Regions from separate parts of the Homo sapiens genome. Here all the other regions are linked to region 3. The links come from fine-mapping of genetic effects on gene expression. A gene starts in region 3. Each other region holds a variant in brackets. All regions are shown on one strand. Distances are from middle to middle.

Region 1 (8,178 bases), 58 kb after region 3:
AGGAGGATGAGGGAGATTTGACGGACAGGCTGGTTGGGGGGATGGGGGATGGGATACGAAGTCCACTCCTGGACAGGTTGGGCTGGCTGTGCCCATGGGAGGGGTCCAGCAGCCTTCTGGAAATGGCCAAAGGGTGATCGGAGCTGGAGCTGGGTCATCGCAATGGAGGTGACAGTCAAGGCCCTGGGAGAGATGAGGCCACCCAGGAGAGGATGCAGAGAATAGGCTGTGGAGAAGCTGGGCTGTGCCCACAGTAATCAAGAGGGAGGGCAGCCAAAGGGGAGGAGCAGGCTACCAGACATTTCAGGAAGCAGGGGTGCTGAGTGGTTCGGGGCTGAGGGCTGAAGGGCAGCTATGATAGGTCTGAGGGGGATGTGGTGGATTTCATGAAAAGAAGGGTGTGGAGACCTCAAAGAAGCTTCAGGGGATGGGGGAGTAGGAGTGCCTCTCAAAGGTTGACGCTGCAGCAGGTAAGCAAGGTAGAGGCCGTGGGTGCAGATGAGTCTAGTTTGAAAGAACTTGGCAGGGATGAGAACAAAAGATGGATGGTGAGCTGCAGGAGAGAGGGGTCAAAAAGAGGTTGGTTTTAGATGGGGAGCTCTGAGCATGCTTACAGTCTGAGGGAGGGAAGCAGTGGCAAGGAAGAGATGAATCAGAGGGAAACGAAGCTGAGCACAGACCCCAAGGAGCTAAGCAGTTAATGACAGCTGGCTGGGCACAGAGCTCTGGATGTCCCCAGACCTGGAAGTATCTAGCTCTTCACCAGCTCCAAGCCCTCCCCCACTGCCACTGGGTCCTAAGGAGAGGCTCCCAGGTCTTCAACCCCAACCCAGCCCTTCCCTGAAGCCCCTCCACCCCCCCACCTGACACAAGGCCAGCAGTTGGCCAGCCATGCTGCAGCTCCATTAAAGACTCAGCCTTCTCCCAGCACCAGCTCCTCTTCATCTGACAGCCTGTGGCCCAGCCCCTACCCCTAACCCTAGCCCACGGGGCACCAGTCACAGATTTCTTGGCTTCTCTGCCCCTGTCTGCGGCCAAAGAGGTGCCTCTGGGCAATCCGCCTGCCACCCCACCACTGTCTGGGAGATCCACCATGTGACTCATAAGCGCTCATGCTGTCCTGTGCAGCCCACCCCATCCCAGCCAGCAAATGCACCCCACCTTCCTGGACTCCTCCGACAGCACCTCCAAGGGTTCAAAGGCAAGCAATCCTCTGTTTCCCCTCCCCTCACTAGGCAGAAGGGGAAATTGAGGCAGGGGAGATGATGATATCTGTTGGAGGTGAGGCAGCCTGGTATCTGACTCCCTAATCGCTCCCTTATTCCTCCCCACCCATCAAGAGGTGTCCTTGTCCCTCAAGAAAGACAAATACCCCCACTATCTTCTATATGTTCCAAAAGGGAGAAGAAGGCTGTCAAGACTAGAGAAAAGAAGGAAGGAGGGGCAGAAGTGAAGCTGCCAGACTAAATTCAGGACACCCAATTAAAAACTTTTAACAGCTTTATTGAGATACAATTTACATAATATAAAGTTCACCCATTTAAGGTGCACAATTCAGTGGTTTGAGTTACTTATGGAATTGTACAACCATCACCATCATTTAATTTTAGAACATTTTCATCACCTTTCCTCCAAAAAAACTTTGCACCCATCAGTAGTCACTTCCCAACCCTTCCCTCCACCACCCATCCCTAGCAACCACTAATTTACTTTCTGCCTCCATGGATTTGCCTATTCAGGACATTTCATATAAATGGAATCATATGATACATAGGATACATGGTCCTTTGTGACTGGCTTCTTTCACTTACCATAATGTTTTCAAGGTTCATCTGAACTGTGGCATGTATCCATACTTCATTCCTTTTTAAGGCTGAATAGTATTCCATCCTGTGGACAAGCCACATTTTGTTTATCCGTTCTTCAGTTGATGGACATTTAGCTTGTTTCCACTTTTAGGTTATTGTGAATAATGCTGCTATGAACATTCGTGTACATGTTTTTTTATTTTATTTTTTTTTTGAGACGAAGTTTCACTCTTGTTGCCTAGGCTAGAGTGCAATGGTGTGATCTCGGCTCACTGCAACCTCCGCCTCCCAGGTTCAAGCGATTCTCCTGCCTGAGCCTCCTGAGTAGCTGGGATTACAGGTGTGAGCCACCACACCTGGCTAATTTTTTGTATTTCTAGTAGAGACGGGGTTTCACGATGTTGGCCAGCCTGGCCTCAAACTCCTGACCTCAGGTGATCCACCCACCTCAGCCTTCCAAAGTGCTGGGATTACAGGCGTGAGCCACCACACCTGGCCCACGTACAGGTTTTTGTGTGAGGATGTGTTTTCATTTTTCTAGGGTAGATACAGACAGAAGAAAAGGCAGAACACATGTCTGGCCCTTTCTCACATTTATCCCCTGTATCATCACCCCACCTGGGTGGGAAGCTATTATGCTCCCCTTTGCCAGATTAAAACACTGAGGCTCAAGGAGAGGCCTGAAACCACTGAGTGCTGGAGCTGAAACGTGAGCTCAGGCCTCCTGATTTCCACTCCAAGGTTCTTTCCAGTTCATCACAATAGCCCACTCAGAGAGTCTGCAGCCCACTGAGGGAACGAAACAGAAGGAACTGAAAAGCAACATCTTCCACGTGAACCATCACCTCATCCTTCTGAAGTCCTAACTAGGTGCTTCATGGACCATGTCCTGGGGTGTAAGGGCTGAGACTGAAGCCAGAGGCTTCATGGAAGGAACGAGTTTTTGCTCCACTCAGTAAAAAGCTAACTGGGATGAAATGGCCCCTGTCCTCAGCCAGTATCCCTGGGTCCCCTGAGAGCCTGCAGGAGAGCCCACCATGTACACATTCTCATAGTTATTTCTCTGAGTGAAGCCCCTCCCAGCAGCGATGGAAGCCAGGTGTGGAAACACTAGGCATTCACTCATTATACTCAGGAATCAGAACTGGTCACAGAGGCTTGGCCACTGATTCCGGCTTCAGCCCATTCCCTCAGCTCCAGTCTTATCCTGGCCCCAACTCCCTGATGTTAAGCAGAACTCAAAGTGCTAGTCTAGAATCATTCCCTTCAGATCTGCCTCACCCCCTCTGCCCTGAACCCTGTCACCAGCGAGCACTGGGCATGGAAGGAAGGGAATTTGCGCTAAGTGCACGTTCCTCAGGTC[G/A]GGATAAAGAGGTAGTGGATGGCCTGGGCTCCCTGGTCCTCTGTGGGCTCATCCCAAAGTCCTACCTTCCACACCAGAAAAGCAAACAGCAGCTTGCTAGAGGGGTCCACTCTACAGTTAAAAGCCACTCACTCCATCTGGCTCGTCAAGTGGGGTGGGAGACACAGAGGAGCCCTTCACTTACTGAGCTTTTCTATTTCAATCACTATCCCCGGCCCGAGTTGGACAGACTTCATCCAGGGCTTAAAATAGCTCCCGGGGCATAGAGCTCAAGAAACATTGACTGAATGTTCAATGTTCAAAATAATACACTTCAAGAGTACAAGAAGGAAGTCTCACAACGCTTTATGGTTTAGAATTATTTAACTATCATAGCATTGCCGGTGAAATAAGTATAATCATTTTCCCATTTCTCAGAGGAGGAAACTGAGGCTGGGGGGAGGGAGGTGGGGAAGGTGGATCGGCTGAGCAGCGGGATCTAGAGCCAGAAGCAGCCGCCCAGCTCAGGGCTGTTGTCCGGGGCTCGGGGTCCCCCTGCTGGCCTAACGGAAGCCTGGGCGTGGGCGAGGAGCTGGGCAGGGCCAGACCCCAGTCCCGCAGCCTGAGTTCCCTGCTCCGCCGCGCTAGGTGCTGGGTTCCCGCGGAAGGGAGAAGAAGGAGGAGCCATAGCTGGGCTCAGCATTATAGCGCCTGGCGGAGCACTGCGCAAGGCTTCAGCTGAGATGCTTCACCCGACATCATGGGCCAGAACAGACGAAACAGGCAGCGCCTCAGCTCCCCACCTGCCCGAGCCTCTCCTGAGCTCACCTGCAGAAAGGCCAAAAGGGACGGCGCCTAAGAAGGCCCAGCAGACCCGCTCCCTTGGAGGGAAGAGACAGATTCGCTCTCCTGACGTCCAGTCCAAAGTGCTTTGTTCCCATAGCATTGTCTCCTCCCGTTTCCAGGCAAATCTAACCCAGCCCCAAGAGAACACTTCCCTCCTCTCTGGATCTTGTTGCCCAGGCTGGAATGCAATGGCGTGGTCTTGGCTCACTGCAACCTTCGCCTCCCGGGTTCAAGCGATTCTCCTGCCTCAGCCTCCCAAATAACTGGTATTACAGGTGCCTGCCACCACGCCTAGCTAATGTTCTATTTTTGGTAGAGACGGGGTTTCACCACGTTGGCCAGGCTGGTCTTGAACTCCTGACCTAAGGTGATCCACCCGCCTCGGCCTCCCAAAGTGCTGGGGTTACAGGCGTGAGTCACCGGGCCCGGGCTTCCAGCTCCTTTACTTTCACCCCACTTCATCTGGCTGCTCTACAATTCCCACAGTGAGGAGGGCTAACTTAGACCCATCCACCACGTCCAGAAGTTACCCCTTGTTGGGGGACGGCTGGCCCTCGACTGGGCATGGAACTCTCTGTTATTTCAATACTCCTCAAAGGTTTTAAGTTTGGTCTCTAGTGCCAAAAAATCTGGCATGAAATCTCACTTATGTCTCTTCTTAGTGTGTGACTTTGTGCACATTACTGAACCAAGAAGCCTCCGTTTTCTCATCTGTAAAATAGAAATTATAATACTTTCCTAATGGGCTGTTGGGAGGATTCAGTGATACATTATACAATCAACAGCACTGTGCCTTGCATTACAGCGAGTGTTTGGTAAATGCTAATAATGATCATTACCTTTCCTACCCTAACACCTAACTAAAGAGAATGGGGTGAAGGGTACATGGGCAGGTAGTTCTGGAGAGAAAAGTGCAGTGCCCCATCACGTGCTTGAGTCTTCTCCAACCTGGCCACCTCCTTGCGTTCCCACCCCCTATCTGCAAGGGGGTGGGTGGCAGCTGCGTCCCTCCCCTGCCCATGCCCTGACAGTGCCAAAGGGCTGGCACAGCTGCTGCAATGGCCCAAATGCCTCAGGTTAGGGCTAGGTAGGGGACAGCTGGGGGTAAAGGAGACGTGAGAGGAGGCAGAGCAGGGGCACCCTTCTCTACCAGCATGTCCACTCACCCTGCAGCTTCCTAAGCCTCTCAGGTCAGCCAGGGACCTCTGACCTCACTCCTGTCCAGCCTGAGGGGGTTTCCCCCTCTTTCCCTCTCTTGTTCTCTGGCCTCTAGTACCTCCTCCTCCATGGCTGGACCCACCCAGTCTCCCAGCCCCGTTGCCCAACTCCCTCTCCTGCCCACATGCTGCCCAGCTGTCGCTGCCCCTGAGCTGGCACTCTGCCCACCTGCACCACTCATGAATCGCCAGCATTCACACTCTGACCCTGGAACCTCCACCTGTTCCCCTCGGTCTGAGCAGCAGGGCTGTGTGGCCCCATCTGTTGTCCTCCAGCCAGGACTCAGTGCAAGGGACTACACTTCAACCCCCGCCAACTTCCACCTGCCAGGAGAGGGCGGGAAGGACTGGCTGGGATGATGCCTGATTTGGGGGGCTCCTTATCTCCTGGAAGAGCAGGCCTTGTTCTCCCCTGCCCCAGGCCCACCAGCACTGTCTTAAAAGACCAACATTACAACTGAAAAAGCAAAAAGCCCACACTTCCCAAAGGACATTTGCATATTTAATAGCATTCTCCTATTACATTTCACTTGTTGATGGCAAGCCCCTAAATCAGAAGCTGGTCAGTGCAAGATGGTAAGCAGAAAGACACAACAGTGGCAACATTTTCAATTAATGTTTCATTATACAAACAATATGTGAATGCGCTTTCCTTGATAAAAAAGTGAAACCACTGTAGTTCAGGCTCAAATTCCATTTAACCAGTTCCCTAAATCAAGACCCTTTCATCTAAACGCAGAGGTGACCATTGTTACCAGTTTGATGTGTATATTTCCAGGAATTTTTCTATGTATTTGCATAATATAAGTGTGTGTGTATATGTACATTTACACACAAGTATGTTTACATTACATATAAATAAGAGTATGTATATACCCCTATACACACATTTATATATGCAAATATATATATATTCAAAAAAAATGTAGTACTATCATGGGTTTGGGTTTTGTTATTTTTTACATGAATTGTAAACTACAAATATTCTGCAGCTAGATTCACTAAAAAAGTCTTATCAAGTCAGTACATCTAGCTCTGCAATCTCTAAATGATACATAATTCTAGCATAAACACATCATAGTTTGTTTAGCCATTTCCCTATTGATAGGCATTTGTGTCTCATTTTCTCCCACTACAAATAAACATGTCCCTGTCACAGATTTTAGCCTTCTCCAATTTGGTCTTACCTGGTCCCACCTGGTCCTGTGTTCCTACCTCTTGTGAACAAAAAGATTTATCATTTAATTCTTTTTAAGGGCACAAATGTAACAAAAGTGTCCTTGGGAACATTTTATTACAAATTTTTAGTAATTTTTCTCAAAACCCTAGGTCCCACTATGATGATTTCTGTATCCACTCAGAAGCAAATTATTGCTGTAGGAGAGAGAGCTGCAGTCAAGGAGGCAGAAGGAGATACAAGAAAAAAAAGTGAAGAGAGAAAAAGGTAAAAAAAAAAAGGGAACAGAAGGAGCAAGAAAGAGAAAGAAGTAAAAGAACATGCTTATTTATTACAGCACTCTCTGCAACAGGGAAAAACTGGAACTGTCCAACAGAAAGGAAACAGTTAAGTAAAACTTGGCATATCCATTCAATGGAATATTACTCAGCCATTACAATAATAATTGTGAAGATTATGCAGGAGCATGGAAAATGCTTCTGATATTAAGTTACAAAGTAGACTACAAAATTAAAACTACATTATGATGACAACTATGCAAAATGATGTGGGCATACAGACATGGGAAGGCAATATAGACAAATGAAACCAATCTGATTTGTTGGAGTAGCAGAATTGTGGGGGCACTATTATTTACTTACTTCCATTAATATTGCTATAATATGGTTTGTGCAATATATGATTAATGCCAAAGTGAAACAGCAATGGAAAGAAGGCAGGAAAGGAAAGTGAATAAAACAGAAAGAGGGAAAAGGGAGGAAGGGAAGAAGGGCGTGAAGGAAGGAATGAGAGGAGAGGGTTGAAGAAGGGAGATGAGAAGAAGGAGGTTGGCGTCAAGCCTACGTTTGAGGGCTGGGCTGTCTTCAGCAGATCTGTCAGTCACAGGGTCGATGCAGGCTTTTCTTCCAGACCCTTTGGATCGACAACAGTTTTCACTGTTCATAGAAGATGGGATCTCCCTCCTCCTTCCCTCTTGTATTCTTTGAAGCCTGCCAAGGAGCTAGGGATACCGAGCTCAGGACTGTGCTCTTCAGGGACTGAAAATCTAGTCAGGTGGGGAGAGATGGAGGCATAGATACGTGAGCAAACTATGACAGCCAGCCCACAAATGCTCAAATAGAGATCTAATCCTCTAAAGGTGGAGGCTGTAGGGTCCCAGAAGTCTTCACAGATCAAAGGACATTTGAGCTGGGGCTCAAAGGATGGACAGGAGATTTCCAGGCAGAGAAAAGGCAGTGACATCCTAGGTAAAAGGCACACGTGCAGAGGAACTGGGGCCTAAATACACACCCATACCACGTACACTACCATTCATATGGCTAGACACAGGGCTCAGGAAAGACAGAGACAAGAGATGATGCCTTGACTTTATCCCCAGGGCAATGAGAAGCACTGAAGGGTTTAATCAGAGCAAAGGCACACTCTGATTTGTCCTTTAGAGAGATAACCCTCAAGACAATGAGGAAAGTGAGTGGGAATAGGGCAAAGTGGAGAGAGGGAACATCAGTTAGGAAGTTACTGTAAGAGTTCTGTTGAGAAGAGTAGGACCCTATGTTGGGCAGTCAATGGGGTGAGGGGAGAAGGATAACTCAAGAAATTCTTAGGTAGAAACGACAGAACTTCATTCGTTCATTCATTCAGCCAGTGTCTTTGGAGGGCCTGCTATGGAATTGGGTATTCAGAGATCAAAGAGAGTCTGTGTCCTAACAGGGAAGACAGAGGGTTACAGATCAATGTGAAAATAGCTATGATTGAGATAAGCCAATGGGGCTGCGGCCGTGAGACCAG
Region 2 (8,178 bases), 27 kb before region 3:
TACCACTGCTTGTCCTTGGCCTTCGTCTGAAGCAGAGCAGCAGGGACACGGGGGAGCCAGTCCACCCAAACCAGCCCAGACCCACCCGCTGGTGCCCTTATTTCCCTAAGCTCCTTCCTGGCATCTAGAGTAAGATGGCCAAGCTGTAGCCTTAGTTCGTATGACCTTACTTGGGCCTCCTTAGAGGTGGAAACCTCCACCCTCTCCATGTTTAAAGTTAGCTCTCTGTATGCCACATGTGGCTTATCTGTGCCCACGGTTAAGTCCTGGGCTGCCTTCTGCTGCACAACCCAGAGCTACTTCACCCAACCCTGGAGTATGAAGGGACTTGGCTCCATAACATGAGCCAGGACAGGGCTTCATGTTCGACATCTGGGACCCCTAAAGTCAGAGTACAGAAGGAATGTCACCCCACCATCTTCCTACTGCCATCGCCTGGACGCAAATGTGACTTGGTATGGAGGGAAGATCAAGAGGTCTTTGCCCCCTGGACAAGTCACTTCTCATCCCAAGTCCTCTGTGTCCCATTGTACAGTCGGCAGGTTGGACTAGATGACCTACTGGCCACAGCTGGCCACTGCCAGCCACTGGGTACCTCTTCTCAGAAAATAAGGAAAGCAAGGGAGGGTCAGAGTCTCCACTTGGCATCAAGCATCACTTCTTCACCCTGATCCCCCATCCAGAAGACTCCTTGCAATATCATCCTGAGCTAAACATGGGGGACTTGCTCTATGGCTTCCTCCTCCTGACACACGTGTATGCATGTGCACGAGCAGACGCACACACACACCCCACCCTTGTGCAACACGCATGCTTGCAGAGGAAACTTGTCCTTTCTTGGCCAAGCACAGGGGCCTGGAACAATGGGAGGGAGGGTGTCTTACATTGCACTTCACACCAGAGCCTGTCCTTACAGATTCCTCAGGATCTCAGTCTGCACTAGCTGACCCCACAGGCCTTCCCTGCCCTTCCACCTTTCGGGTTCCACATCTGCAGCAACCACTGAGCTTCAGCCAGCCAGCGGTGGAGCCAGATGCCCAGGCTGTGCTCCAGAGCATCCCTGCAGTGACTCAGAGGCCACTGACCTTTGAACACATCCAGACCTCCCCTCCCTGCCAGTGGAGAGATCTCCCAGCACACCAGACCCTAAATGCCTTGAGACAATCTCTTTCTAATCCCTTAATCCAGTGGTGGGAGCCATTTTCTATTAAGGGGCAGTGACCTCAGTGGAAAATCATAATCATACAAGGGCCACATCACTGTATAAAATTACTGAAGTTTGATGTGGCTGCTGCTGTTTCTTTTTAATTAGGAAAGATGTATAAAACATTCAGAACACCTGATTTTTAAAGGAAGACAAAACCATGCAAAATAAACATGATCAATATGTTAGAATATGTTTTCCAAATTGAAGGCAGTTGAGATGGTGTGACTTAAAAGAATGTAAAGGAAAGAAAGAGTGAGAAATTGTGGTAGGAAAAGGAGAAAGACTAGAGAAAAATAAGGAAAACGTGAAGGGCAGGAAAGGGCAGGCCAGTGGAAAGGAGAGGGAAAGAGGGTGATGAGGTTAGGAGCAGCAAGGAGGGCTCGTTAGGCCCAGCTGCTGGGTCATTACTTTCTGCTCCATGCTTCTGGTCAACCCTGATCTTGTAAGGCTGGTTTTCAGATTATTACCTGGATTGTAGGCTACCATTTACACAAAGTCATTTGGTAGATGCTCATTTCTATTATACCATTTCATCTTTGCAAGAACTCTAAAAACTAGGCTTGAGAAAAGTAAGACCTAGAAAAGTTGCCCAAGCTCACACACCATAACAATTGGCCAGGACTCCAATTCATCCGCAGATCAAAGCTTCTGCTGTTGATACTATACCATTTGTATTGTCTACCTTGCCATTATCTTCCTATTGAACTGTTGATTATCTTTGTTCATTGCCCCCTTGATCACCATGAGGCAATGAACAAATGATCCAGCTACTCTTTCCTTCTTTCTGTTTTCTGAACCCATTAAACTCGTCCCATCTCTATTCCCCACCTGCCCTGACCTCAAAACTTGGTCTGATCTATTCTTGCTTCCTGGGCTTGGTTTTCCATGCCCAGATCTTCCCATAGCAGCCCAGCTTACCCTTCAGGTCTCCCCTTAAGCATCACTTCTTCAGAGAGTCCTTTCAACCACCTCCCTGTCACTCTCTCACATCACTCCAAATTGTTTATTATCATGGCACTTACTGCTGCGCGGTGTTTTTTGTTTTGTTTTGTTTTTTGTTTGTTTGTTTGTTTGCTGTTGACTATCCGTCTTTCTGAGCTAGAAGAGAAACTCCATGTGACCAGGACTTTATCAGCCTTGTTTGTTACTATATCTCCGGAATCTAATACTACTTCTGGCAAATAGTAGATGCTTAATATGTGTTTGTTGAATGAACGAGTGAATAAATGAACTGCTCTCTATCCCCTTTATAGACTCTGCTCCTAGCTGTTAGTGGTACTTTTTTGTACAGAACCAACAAATCAATCCCTAGGTTGCATTTCCCATATCAATCAGCTCAAATTCTCCTTCTACAATTCTAATCAAAACTCATCCATTCCACAAGCATGTCCAAGCTCTTGGCTGAGACTGTGGATGAAGATAAATGAGATTTGACTCCAGATTCAAGGCCTGAGCTTCTGGAGTTTATAGAGTCTAGAAGAGAGGGGATAAGGCATGCCCACAAAGTATTATAATTCAAGATTAAATGAGTCATAAACAATTAAAAAAGAACAAATTAAATATGTTCAGAGGAAATTTCCTCTGGTTGGATGATCTGTGGGGACCCTAACGTAAAGAAACAACAGAACTGAGATCGAGTTTTGAATGAGGGTTCAGACCTCACTGCAGTCTCAGGCAGTCAGCCATGAGACTCAGAGCCATGACCTCAGATTGAGGGCCAGGGTGTGTCCAGACTGGACCAGGCACGCGAAGACCCGGGAGGCAGGAGGGGATAAGGATGGAGAGAGGCTGAGGCCAAACGGTCCAGGTTTGTGGACTGCACATAGCCATGGGAGAGAGCGAACTGAGTGGGCACCATGACCCAGGCAGCAATGTAAACCAGCAGCCCAGCCGCTGCACTTGCAGCTGACAGGAGGGAAGGGGGTTCGTGCAGGACCCTCACCCACAAACCCAGGGGGTTAACCAAGTTTCTGTCTAAGAAGTTCAGCAGGGCAGATTTCTCTCCTTTCTTAGTAATGTGAAATGTAAGCTGGTCAACAGGCATGATTTCTCAACAGCAGGAAATGAAGCAACTGTTTTGGAGACAGCATCCCTCCCTGATGGAGGGCAAGGCTTCAGGCTGTGGTCATTTTCCTGTCAAGTTAATC[C/G]TAGTTGTAGAAAACACATCTCCTGAGAAGGCTGGCCTGTCAGGGAAGGGGTGGAGACCTGGAGGCCTGGGGTAGGAATGGGAATGAGGAATGAGCAGGGCTCCATGTTGTTACTCATGAGCGGTAGGGGCTCTGCTGGAAGAAGATCGGGCAGTGTGGAGAAACTGGAGGCGGACTAGGAGGTGGGGTGGGAGGCTGGCGGCGAGCGGAAGGGAAGGATGGGCAACAAGCTTCAAGGGGACTTGGAGGTCTCAGGGAAGGATGCCAGACCTGGAATAGTTCCCAGCCTCTGCCTCTTTTCTTTTTTATTTTTCGACAGAATCTTGCTCTGTCGCCCAGGCTGCAGTGCAGTGGCGAAATCTCGGCTCACTGCAATCTCTGCCTCCCAGGTTCAAGCGATTCTCCTGCCTCAGCCTCCCAAGTAGCTGGGATTACAGGCACCGACCACCATACCCAGCTAATTTTTGTATTTTTAATAGAGACGGGGTTTCACCATGTTGGCCAGGATGGTCTTGATCTCTTGATGTCGTGATTTGCCTGCCTTGGCCTCCCAAAGTGCCAGGATTACAGGCATGAGCCACCGCGCCTGGCCCTCTGCAACTTTTCTCTCCATCTTTCTGAGGCCCATGGCCCCTCCCAGACTCAGTCATAGCCCTAGCTTCTGGGACCTGGGACCACAGTCATTTCTTCTAGTTCCTTCTCCTGGGCCCATCTTTACCATATTATATTGTAAGTATTGGCTCAACAACTGCCTTCTACATAGACCCTGGGCCCATTGAGGGCAAGGGCCCTGTCCCCCTCCTCTGCTGGCCCTAGCACCTGGCAGACTGGGGCTGAACCTGCAGGGCCTGTGGATGTCGGGCTGAATGATATAGTTGCCGTTGTACCTTCTGGGTCTCTTCCACCACCTGATCTCTAAATGTCAGGATGCCTCAGGGCTCAGGCATGGGCTTCTGCCCTTCTTGCTCTACGTGAACTCATCCGTTCCCATGGCTTTAAATAGCATCTTGACACCAATGACTGTATCCGCAGCCTAGACCTCTCCTCCAAGCTCCAGATGCATGTATCCACCAGCCCGCTTGCTCTCTCTACCCAGATAAGGCATAAACAGTTCTTTAATATGGCTGAGACAGACCCCCTACTCTAAAACTTATCTCCACCCCATGAATTCCTCACATTAAACAATTAGCACAACCTTGTCCACCTTGCTAAAGGTAGGACCCCCTGGGTGGTTCCTGGTCCCTCTATTCCCTCATCCTTTTACATCCAACTCATCTGTAAGTGTGCGGATGTTCCCTCCAAGGAATGTCCATAGTCCACCCTTCTTTCCACCTCCACGTCCCCAGCCCAGGGCAGGCCACCGCATCTCTTGCCTGGACCTCTTTAACAGCTGCTTATGTTCATGCCTCTTCCACTCTTGCCATACCACAAATCTATTCCCTACAGAGCCACTAGAGTGACTTTCCAAAACATAAACTCTATCCTGGACTACCTGCTTAAACATCCAGTGGTGTCCCATTGCACAGAGGACAAAACCCCTCTGTGGTTTCCACAGGCCCCAGGACACAGACCTGCCTCTCTCCCCGGGGCCTCTTGTCTCTCCCCACATCCCCAAACTACTCTAGCCAGCTGGTCAGCTTGCTTGTGCTTTTCTCTTTTTTTTTTTCCAACACACTAAGCTCTTTCTCACCTCCAGGACTTTGCATATGGTGTTCTCTGCCTGGATCATTTTCTCTCTTCTTGAGGTAGCTGACTCCCTCTCATCCCTCAGATTTCTGCTTAAGATCACCTCCTCGGAGAAGCCTCCCTGACTGTCCTAACTAAAGGAGGTTCCACTCCTCACTCTCCCCACCCTAGCCCAGGACTTGGCACCTAATAGGGGCTCAGTAACTCTTTCCTGAAAGAATGAACACATGCTGCCCTTAGTCCCTGGCAGACTCCTGTGAGCTCTTTAGTTTATCCTTCTAAGCCACCAAAGATTCACTCTCCTTTCCGCTTATTTTTACGTTTTCTCAAAACTTTCCTCATAAACACCATATTGTTGAGTTTCTTTCTCTCCCTAAAATAGCTGCAGAACTGGACAAAGACTGGCTATCTGCTTCCTAGCTGTCCCTTTCAGTTTCAGGGTTTATGTGCTAGTCATTGCAGGGGAGCAGTGGGGAGAATGGAAAATTACCAACAAGGAGAAGTGGCAGAATCCAGGGACTGACCGTGTTCTTACACCCGTGGTCCTCAGTCTATAGTTAGCTTCTGACTTCCTTTCTTGGCAAGATCTATACCAGCTATCTAGGACAGTCCCAGTTTCAACTGTTCTGTCCTATTGTCCCACTGTGTTTCATGAATTTTCTTACAATATTGGCTCTCTCTCTTTTTCCTCCCACTCTCCTTTTATCCCATGAGGGCAGCCTTACTTAAACAACCCTCGCACTCAGTGTTGAAAGAGCTGAATTCAGTTCAAGTCTTGCTCAACCACATAAAATGTGCACGACTTTGGGCAAAGCACTGATCCTCTCTCAGCTTCCGTTTGCTCACCTACTGAGAGGGATAAGGCCAACACCTCCATTCCAGCATTCGGCAGGGCGGGTTGTGACTGGAATAGCATGTGTTGGGCACTTGGCACCCATAGCAAGTCTCCCTTGCCCCTCAGGATGAATAATGGAGTGAATTAGTCTTTCAGCCAAAAGACTCTGGGCTCCAGAGAGTAATGTAATGCTTTACCCAAACAGTGGAAGTGTGGAAGTGATGTGGATGTTGGGGGACTGTTATATTCTCTCGGTTCAGCTGTGGCCTGAGTGATGAGTCAGGTCATGTCTGTAGATAGAGAGCTCTGTCTCCACAAAGAGGAGGTGCCCAGCTCCAATCCCTGGGGAAAGGTTGTATCTTTATTGGAAACCAGAGCTCAGAAGACTAGCCTTAGGGAGATGGAAGAGGGCCCCGACTTGGGAGCAGGGGTGCATCTTTCAACAGGGGTCCCTAAACAGATGGCGCCCTCCGTATGGAATCAGGAGTCGAGCATAGCTTGAACGTCTGACTGTCCAGGACCCACCTCAAAGCGTGCACTTCCCCTGCCTCACCCTCAAGCCTCCCCTGAGTCTTATCTGAATGCCTTGGCTCAGGCTCTGCTTTTCAGGGGGAGGACTGTGCCACCTCCTGGGCCAGAGTGTTAAGGGGTGACCAGTGCCCCTGAGACCACCTTGGCTACAACCTCTCAAGGGAAATGTGCATCTTGGTGAATCCGAGGGACAGGGTAGGGATCATGCAATCCAGCTGCTTCTTTCTCCCCACCAGGGAGGTCTTCATCCAGTGCCAACCTGGGTAGGTCTGCCTCGAGCATGTTTTTATTGAGGAGCTGGCACTTTCTTTCAAATGTCAGGGGCATTGAAGACCACGCAGGTTTCACCTCCTCCAGGCCCTTGCCTAGCAGGAGAAAGGTCACTTTCAGGCATGTCCTCACACTCCCTGCACTCAGGTTTGCCTTGGGCCATGCCTGGTCAAAGGAAGCCTAGAGACTGGGCTCCAGTACAGGCTCTGTATTTAGCAGCCAAGTGACTTGGAAAGGTCACCTGCTCTCTGCTTCCTCATTGTCAATGGAGAAAACAATCTCTGTATTAGTTTTCTGTGGCCGCTATAACTAATTACCACAAATTATAATGGCTTAAGACAGCACATATTTAATGTCTTACAGTTTTTTGAGGTTACAAGCCTAAAATAAGTTTGATAAAGCTAAAATCAAGATGTCCACAGGGCTGTGTTCCTTCTGGAGTCTCCAGAGCAGAATCTATTTCCCTGCCTTTCTAACCTTCTAGAAGCTGCCCGCATCCCTTGGCTCGTGGCTCCTTCCTTCATCTTCAGAGCACATCACTCCTACCTCTGCTGCCCTTGTCACATCCCCTTTTCTGTGTCTGACCCTCCATCATCCGCTCATAAGGACCTCTGTGATTATATTGGGCCCACCCAGATAATCCAAAATAACCTCCCCAACTAAGACTCTTAACTTAGATACATCTTCAAAGTCTCTTTTGCCATGTGTGGTTACATGTTTCCAGGCTCTGGGGTCTAAGACATGGACATCTTTGGGGAGCCATTATTCTCTCTACCACAGCCTCCTTACCACATAAGCTGTTCTCAAATCGCATCCATCTCCAGGCTTCAGGAAGGACCTTCTCATCTCATCGCAGGCCAAAGGGCCCGGTCGCCTAAGGATGAGGCCTGGTCCCCTAAGTACTCCTAAGGATGGAGAGTCTGAAGATAGCTTTATTTGCCTGTTTTCTTTGAAACAGGGTCTTGCTCTCTCACCCAGGCTGGAGTGCAATGGCAAGATCTCAGCTCACTGCAACCTCTGCCTCCTGGGTTCAAGGGGTTCTTCTGCCTCAGTCTCCCAAATAGCTGGGATTACAGGTGCATGCCACCACACCTGAGTCTTTTTAGTAGAGACGGGGTTTCACCATGTTGGCTAGGCTGGTCTCGAACTCCTGACCTCAGGTGATCTGCCTGCCTTGGCCTCCCAAAATGCTGGGATTATAGGCATGAGCCACCACGCCCAGGCTAGTTGCCTGTTTTAATGTTGAAGGCTCTTAAAGGGAGTTATAACTGCTATCTGACCCATCTCCATTCTGGCAAAAGGGATCCATGTAGCTCTGCTGTATGCGTTTTCCAAATTCAGTGTTTAGTGGGGGAGCCACAGGATCATCTCAACTGCAGAGGGTGGAAATCTCATGGGAGAGCCAGAAATGAAGGTGGGGTTGGAGAAGGAGAACCGGCCTCCTCAGAGCATCTGCTCCGTGCCAGACCCTCACATGCATACCTCACTGAATTCTTACCACA
Region 3 (8,178 bases):
GGATGCACTCGCTGCAACGTAGCCCTCTGTTCTGCACACAGCACGGGGGCCAAGGATGCCCCGTCCCCCTCTGGCTCCAGCTGGCCGGGAGCCTGATCACCTGCCCTGCTGAGTCCCAGGCTGAGCCTCAGTCTCCCTCCCTTGGGGCCTATGCAGAGGTCCACAACACACAGATTTGAGCTCAGCCCTGGTGGGCAGAGAGGTAGGGATGGGGCTGTGGGGATAGTGAGGCATCGCAATGTAAGACTCGGGATTAGTACACACTTGTTGATTAATGGAAATGTTTACAGATCCCCAAGCCTGGCAAGGGAATTTCTTCAACTCCCTGCCCCCCAGCCCTCCTTATCAAAGGACACCATTTTGGCAAGCTCTATCACCAAGGAGCCAAACATCCTACAAGACACAGTGACCATACTAATTATACCCCCTGCAAAGCCCAGCTTGAAACCTTCACTTAGGAACGTAATCGTGTCCCCTATCCTACTTCCCCTTCCTAATTCCACAGCTGCTCAATAAAGTACAAGAGCTTAACAGTGTGTTGGCGCTTTGCTTTGGTCTATCTTTGAGCGCCCACTAGACCCACTGGACTCACCTCCCCCATCTCTTCTGGGTTCCTTCCTCTGAGCCTTGGGACCCCTGAGCTTGCAGAGATGAGGCCGCCATGTCCTCTGCCTAGCCGCAGAGAGCCCCAGTGGGAGGCCAGCGTCCTCAGATTCACCTGCCTTGGACTTAACCCAAGCATGGCTGATGGCCTTCCAAATATTAAAGTCATTGCCATCCAGATTTCTAAATTAAATTCCCTGTTGAAAGAAACGTTTTCTGTTTCCTGAAGGCTAGCAGGCCCTGGGAAAGAAGGCTTTTCATCCCAACACTCCCTCTCTTCTGATCCACAGGAAGGTGGTGGGAGCTCATCACAGGACCAGGTTAGAAAGCCCTGAACCCTGGACCCTCAGGGCCAGCAGGAAATGCAGATGTCATCTCATGCACCCTTCCTGCCTCTCGGGACTGGAGTCCCTGCAGAGTGCTTGAGAGATGGCCCTCCAGCCTCCCAGTGAGGGGCAGCCGATTACCTTGGAAGCAACCCATTCCGTGGCTGGGCTGAAATCTGTCAATAGTCCTAGTGCTGGGCTTAGCCCTTTGTTCTGTTCACCCCTCCCCTAACACTCATCCCTCCACCCATTCAGAGATCAAAGTACCTCTGCTCAAGCTGGCCTGAGATAGGAGGTCGGGAGGATGTGATGGGGTGACTCAGAAGAATAGACAGATTTTCAGCCTTTATGAGGTGGAGACGCTCTCATCAGGCTTCTGTTGAATTCCCAGGGCCCCAGGAATGCCTTTATCCAAAAAGGCTCCAGATACTCACCCCAGAACTAAAGAGAATTGATTTGTGGATTCTCTGATGTTTGGATTATCTGTGACTTAGGATAATCACAAATTGGCCTGATGGTTTGTGACGCCGGTTTGAAGTGGAGGGAAGGAGGAAATATCTGAAATCTGAACCAGCTGGAGCTGGGCAGATGCTACTGATCCCAAGGTCACAGCCCTGCTGAAGGCGAAGAAAACAAGGACTCGGCAAGGCGTGGAGTGGGGTGTGGGGAGGGGGTACCCGGCATTTCACCTCTGGCTGGTGGGGCCAAGTATTCCCTAATCCCTGCCACTGCCCACCCCACCACACAGGCATCTTTGAAACCCCAGGGCTGCAAGCCCTTGTGGGCAGCCAACTGCCCTCCCCTGGGGCCACCCTTCCCCCAGCCGGGGACAGGCTCTCCAGGGCTGACTCAGTGTCCTGTGGGGTTAGTCACATTCACTTATAGCTGCAGAGTCAGAGGCCAAGGATGGAGATCCAGTCTCCAGGACCCACTCCCTGCCTGGCAAGACGTGGAGTCACCTAGCAGAGGGCGAGGGCATCCAGGGAGGGCCAGATCCAGAGGCTCCCAGGCCCTGCACTGCCACTCCCCAGCAGAGACAGCAGGGTTGAGAGGCAGCCACACCCTGGTGTCCCCAGTCCTCAGGAAAGGGAAGAGCATGCATGCTGCTGAGGGCCCTGAATAAATCACTTTTACTTATTTTTAAATTGTGAGCACATCTTACGTGCTAAAGAGTGCATAAATGTATTTGTTTAATTTGAAGAATAACTATGTAGTAAGAACCTGTGTAACCACCACCCAGGTCAGGAAAGGAAACCTCATTAGCACCCCTGCAGCCCTCACGATCACAGATATCCCTGTTCCTCCACCTAGAGGCAATCGCCATCCTAACTTTTGTACTGGCCTCATCTTCCTTTCTGGCCTTACCGCCTACGGATGTACCTTGAAGAAGGGAGCCTGGTGTTGACTGCATTTGGATTTAATGTAGATGAGACAGATGAGACGCAACATTTCTGTGTGCCTTGCTCTTCTGCTCATCACTGGGTCTGTGAGTAGCTGAAGTTGCTCATTTGACCCCATATTTTGCTTTACAGTTGCATAAACACTCCACAGTTATTTATCCATCCCACTGTTGAGGGACAGCTGTTTTCCCCCACATTTCAACAATTACAAATAACATTGCCATGAACCTTCTTCTCCATGTCTCCTGGGGCATGTGTGGGTGTTATATGAGCGGCACGGCTGGGTCACGGAGTAGGCACCTCATCCATTTTACTAGGCACTAGTAAAACTCTCACATTTTCCAGAGTGACTGCTCCAATACCAGCAATAAAAGTTCTTAATGTTCTCCCTCCTTCCTGACACATGGCATTTTCTGGCTTTCCAGTGATTCCCAGTCTTAACATTTTATCGAACAAATGAATCAATGACTAGAAATCTGGCCATATCTGCCTCCTTTGGCACACTGAGAAAGCCCATGCCCACAGCCTGCTTGGAAGAGTCTAGAAGCTTCAGAGTGCTCTCCTCCACTAGGGCATCTTCCAGATCTGCCTACAACTGCAACCCATCCCGAAGGGCGAGGGGTTCTCTGTAACAGGTGGAAAACTGAGGCCCACAGCAGGCATCAGGGGAGACGAGCTCCTTACCAGCCGCCCAACTGAGACAGGAGCCAGGAGACTTAGTGCCCCTTCCTGGGGTTCCAATGCTGGAGGACCATCCTCTGAGCAGCTCCACCCTCAGCATCTCAATTCCCTCCCTCTCTAGGGCCCTCAGCCTCATACAGCACAGGCGAGAGTCCCTGGGAACTGTGGGAGCCCAGGGAATGTGGACCCCAGAGGCAAAGCTGGGAGTGCTCACAAGGACGATTGTCCCAAACTGTCAGGGCCCCAGCACCCAGTCTGAGAAGCTCTGGGAACAAGTGGCCCCATAGACGCCAGACACACAGAGCCTGAGCTGGGCTCATTCTCCAGATAGAAGTTCTTCCTCCTATTGCCCTGACACCTGGCACGCGGCCTGCTCGATGTCCCATCTCACCCATCTGCGCCCTCCCCCAGCTGGGCACCAGCACCCTGGCTGTTGAAGGCCAGTCGGGGAGATGGATGAGGAAGTGACTCCTCAAGGGGCCCTTGTGGTTCCTCCCCCAGAGCTATTCCTGGCCTGGGCGCCTCTCCACCCTCCAGTCCTCCTGCTTGACCTGACCCCACAGCTGGGAATCGTTTGCTGGGGGTGGGGCAGCCCCTGACTATATAAGCCTGGACCTAGGTGTCCCAGGCACCCTAGAGGCCCAGGCCCCCCAACGGCTGACCCCTGCACACTCCACCCTGGCCCCCCAGCCAGTCCAGCAATGATGGAAAAAAACACCTCCGAGGGCCCTGCCTGCAGTCCAGAGGAGACCGCATCTGAATCTGCCAAGGTGCCCACAGCAGAGCCTCCCGGAGAAGTGGCAGTATCAGAGTCCACCAGAGAAGAGCAGGTGCCCAAGCCGCAGGCCCCTGCCCCACAGGCCCCTACAGCCTCCACAGCCACTAAGCCTGCACCCCCAAGTGAAGGTGACTGAAGGTGGGGCAGGGGGAGGAGGGAGGCAGGCATGTCAGGGGTGGAGGGGAGCTCTTGGCCATGAACCTCTTCATCTCCCCAGATGTCCCCAGTGCCCCACTGCTGCTGACCCTGGATGATGTGAGCAGCAGCTCTGTGACTGTGAGCTGGGAGCCCCCAGAGAGGCTGGGGAGGCTGGGCCTCCAGGGCTATGTGCTGGAGCTCTGCAGAGAGGGAGGTGAGTGCTGGGCTAAGTCTTGCATACACCCAGGGGAGGTTGTCATGGAGGGCTGCAGGGACAAGTGCACAGGCCCTGTGGTTGGTCAGTCTGGGAGAGATACAGAAGGAGGGGATGCGAGCAGTAGGCTCCTCAACCCACCCACCTGCCCTTTCTTGCTCCACCAGCAGGAGAGCAAGAAAGGGTAGGTGGGTGGGTTGAGGGGCTCCCTTGTCCTCAGCTCCAAGGAGCTTCTGAGTAAGGGAAGGGTAAGGGGACACTGGGTTCTCCTTTGGTGAGAAGGGAAGGAAGTGCTAAGTCTCAGAGGACCCCGAACTGTAGGAAGTGGAAAGGGAGGAGCTGGAGAGGGGAATGTTAGCGTAAGAGACAGTGAGGAGAAAGCGGGAATGGGGTGGGGGTGTGGGGGCCACATCCCTGCTGCCACTGTCCCCCTCCATGGCCCAAGTCCAGCCTGGCCTCTGCCTCTGCCCCTACCTTGCTGTGTGACTTTGCAAATGTGTCCAACCCTCTCTGGGCTTCAACAACCTCATCTCTAGCCACAATTTCAGGGCTCTAACATCAGGTGTCTTTGATGCCATTTGACAAGAAGTCAGGGAAGGCAAACAAGGGGAAAATGAGGCCCAGAGAGGGAGGCTGATTTCCCCAGATCACCAGCAGGAAAAGAAGCCCCATGGAGAGGGGCGCCTGTGGCCACATTGCAAAGACCTCACACTCTCTCCATCCCCTCAGCCTCGGAGTGGGTGCCTGTGAGTGCCCGGCCCATGATGGTGACCCAGCAGACTGTGCGGAACCTGGCTCTGGGAGACAAGTTCCTCCTGCGCGTGTCTGCAGTGAGTTCTGCAGGGGCTGGCCCGCCGGCCATGCTGGACCAGCCCATCCACATCCGAGAGAACATTGGTAAAGCCCATCCTGGCCTTCAGCTACCCAGCCCTTCCCAAACACCTTATCTAATGGAGAAACTGAGGCCAGCAGGTAGAGGGAACCAGGCAGTCATTTCCCCCGTCCCACGCTCACATGCACAAGCCACACGCTATCACCATCTTGCCTTAAGAAAGTTCCAGGTTCCTCAGCAGTAAGGGGCCTCTGGAGGTCTAAGAAGCCATTTCCCTGAGTGGTCCAGCCCCCACGCCTTGAGAAAGGGGCTCAGAAACAAAAGGTCAAGTTCCCTGGGTCACCTGCTCAATGCTAAGAGTCCATCTGTTCTATCTCCCATCTAATCTCAATCTCTCCAGTGGCCATAAATGCTCATTTTCTGCCCATTTCCTGTGGCCTGGGTTCCAGATTCTCTCAAAGGTCTTGAAACAGAGAGAAGGCGCTGCTTGCCCCTTGTTCCACCATGGCCCTAGTGGAAAGAAAAAGAAGGTCTGCAAAAGGCCCATGAAGACTTCTCCATTGCAGAGGGCATACCTCACTGGGGCCCCGCAGGCCAGCTGCCATCCCCATTGCTAATATTTCTATTTGCAAGGTGCATTAGCCTCAATCCTCCCCTCGCTCCCCTCCCGGAGCTGATCGGGTTTCAGTCTGTTAATGACAGTGAGTCATTTGGTCTGATCTGAGGTCTCTGGGGACAGCACAGTCCCCCAGGGTGAGGAGAGACACAGGCAGGCAGGTGGCCTGAAGCCTTCTCCACCTTCCTTCTTGCTCCTCCACTAGGGGATGGATGATTTCTGGTAGCTCTAGACAAGGCCTCCAGAAGGAGAGGGGATCCACAGGAGGGGTCAAGTCTGGATTCGAAAGGAAATGCTCAGCTCTGAGGCCTGAGAGACATGGGAACCATGGGGTTAGGGAGCTTAGATTCATAGATTATCAAGGCCCAAGGAGATCCCAAGGAGCCCAGGGCATCCCTTGAGGTCACCCAGCCTTTTATTGGCAGTCCCAGAGTCTGATGCCTACACAGGACCACTCATGTCCCACTGCACTGCAGAGCATCTTCTCTGGTGGCACCCAAAACCCAAGCCTCCCAACCCTAATTCCCAGCCTTTGGCTCTAGGTGAGATGTGGCCCCACCAGGCAGCTGCATTATGGCTGTGTCGACCCTAGTCCTGGAGGTGCCAGGAAGGCTTCTTGGTTGGGACGGTGCTGGGCCTTCCCCAGGGAACCAGGGAGCTCAGACTCTGAGAGGCCCCTGAGGCCCAGCATTGATGGACCCAGCCAGACTCAGCACCCACTTCTCCATTCAAATTCCTCTGGCAGGAGAGAAGGGGATTTCCTGGAGAGAAGAGGGAGAGGAGGCTGTGAACAAGTGGGGAACAGCCAGGCTTATCACAGGGCAGAGTGGGGGCCCTGTCCAGGATCCTTGGCTGCTCAGCTGTCTCTCCTTGGCCACCTGGAGCTGCCAAGCATTCTTGACCCCCTGCAGCTGTCCCTAGAGCATTCCATGCCTGAGCTCCCAGAGCCAAGTGCCCACTCAGCTAATCCTCAGAGACACCGTGTTCCTTCTCACTGTCTTGTCCTCCTCCGCCCTGCATGCCACCAACCAACTGCTGCCACCTGTTTGCTGCTGAGGAGCCTCAGTCATGGACCCAGCACCCACCCCAGGGGACAGGGATGGTGGCCACTGCAGCTTCCCTTAGAATGCCCAGGGGCTTCAGTGGTTGCCCCTGACCAGATGAGGGTCAGAATGTCATTCCTTAGCATAGCAGGCAGCTGAAATAGGACTTCAAGAAGGACTTCCCGGCTCTGAGACTAACAGATTTTGGGAGGGTGACAGAGGAAGAAGGGGGGATACCCGCCCTGGCTTCACTTGGGAAGAGAAAGATCCTAAACCTTTCAATAGGGCCTGGAGACAGAGGAATGGACAAACAGGGTTTCACAAAGGCTTCTCTGAAAGTCCTGGGCTTGTGGAGAGCTGGGGATATTAGAGCAGGAAGACGGCAGTGGCCTCCCCTTCCTAGAAGTGCAGCCTGACAGGTGCAGCACCTGCTCCCCAGCAGGGGGAGACAGAGAGTCAGCTGGGGCCCATCTGGTGCTTGGGAATGCCTGGGCTGCAGGACAAATCCCATCCTGGCAGAGTCGAGGCGCCAAGGGAGTGCCCAGGATGCTTACCAGTTCACACCATGGAGGCGCTGACCTCCTGAAACCTCCTGCTCCCTTAAGGGATTTGGGCCCCTAGACCTCAGGAGTGAGAGCTTCACCCTTCCTGCAAGGAGGGACCCCATGGCAGCCAGGCACACCCAGGACCCTCCTCCCAGCCAGCATCCCTCACCAGCTGTCCCCTGCCCCATCTCAGAAACCCCAATCAGCCACCCCACTGCACTGCTAAGCCCAGACTCTTGCTTTGATCCAGAGGCCCCCAAGATCCGTGTCCCCCGCCACCTCCGTCAGACCTACATCCGCCAGGTGGGAGAGACGGTCAACCTGCAAATCCCCTTCCAGGTGGGTATTACCCCCACCAAGGGTAACAGCCTGGGTGGGAACCAGGGCCCCCATTTAAGGGGAGCCTGGGAGATGGCAGGGTCTCCAAGGGTCCAGCTGAGACCCAGCGAGACGGCTTCATCCTTCCGCAATCATGCACATGACTCATTGGTGATTCTCAGCCTGTGGATGGGCAGGTGGGCCCCCAGAGCGGGATGGACACCTGGAAGATGTGGCTGTGGGCAGCACCTGTGGCTCCAGCCTCTGCTGCCCCTCCTGAGAAGGGCCAGTGGGACAGGCTTCCCCGAGAACAGCTCCAGAGACTCCTGGAGTTAAGGAGGTGTGGGGACTCTGGCACCTCCCTACACTCACCCTGGGGGCTCCTCCCTGCCAGGGGAAGCCTAAGCCTCAGGCCACATGGACCCACAACGGCCATGCCCTGGACAGCCAGCGGGTGAGCATGCGCACCGGGGACCAGGACTCCATCCTCTTCATTCGCTCGGCCCAGCGCTCCGACTCTGGCCGCTACGAGCTCACTGTGCGCGTGGAAGACCTGGAGGCCAAGGCAGTCATTGACATCCTGGTGATTGGTATGGAGCCAGGGGAACAGTGCTGTCTCATGGGGGACCTGGAGCCCCCAACCTCCTATCCCAGAGCTGATGGCTGATGGGAGCAGGCCAAGGG

The links. PIP is the estimated chance that this variant, and not a neighbour inherited with it, causes the effect.
Region 1: its variant is fine-mapped to the expression of MYBPH in monocytes (TOPMed, PIP 0.97).
Region 2: its variant is fine-mapped to the expression of MYBPH in whole blood (TOPMed, PIP above 0.99).

What each region holds. Positions count from the first base shown.
Region 1 is chr1:203,113,523-203,121,700 of GRCh38, reverse strand. No RefSeq gene overlaps it. Among named protein-coding and RNA genes, the nearest start is that of ADORA1, 10 kb to the left of the region's middle. The variant G/A (reference allele first, on the strand shown) is at 3,172.
Region 2 is chr1:203,197,862-203,206,039 of GRCh38, reverse strand. No RefSeq gene overlaps it. Among named protein-coding and RNA genes, the nearest start is that of CHI3L1, 15 kb to the right of the region's middle. The variant C/G (reference allele first, on the strand shown) is at 3,355.
Region 3 is chr1:203,171,289-203,179,466 of GRCh38, reverse strand. It overlaps MYBPH (myosin binding protein H), which reads left to right and starts at 3,641. Exons shown (of 11, transcript NM_004997.3): 1 at 3,641-3,916; 2 at 4,006-4,140; 3 at 4,870-5,037; 4 at 7,427-7,515; 5 at 7,889-8,084. The coding sequence starts at 3,712. CHI3L1 (chitinase 3 like 1) reads left to right here. Exons shown (of 10, transcript NM_001276.4): 10 at 1-536. The coding sequence ends at 22. RefSeq lists enhancers at 860-2,059, 4,977-5,506.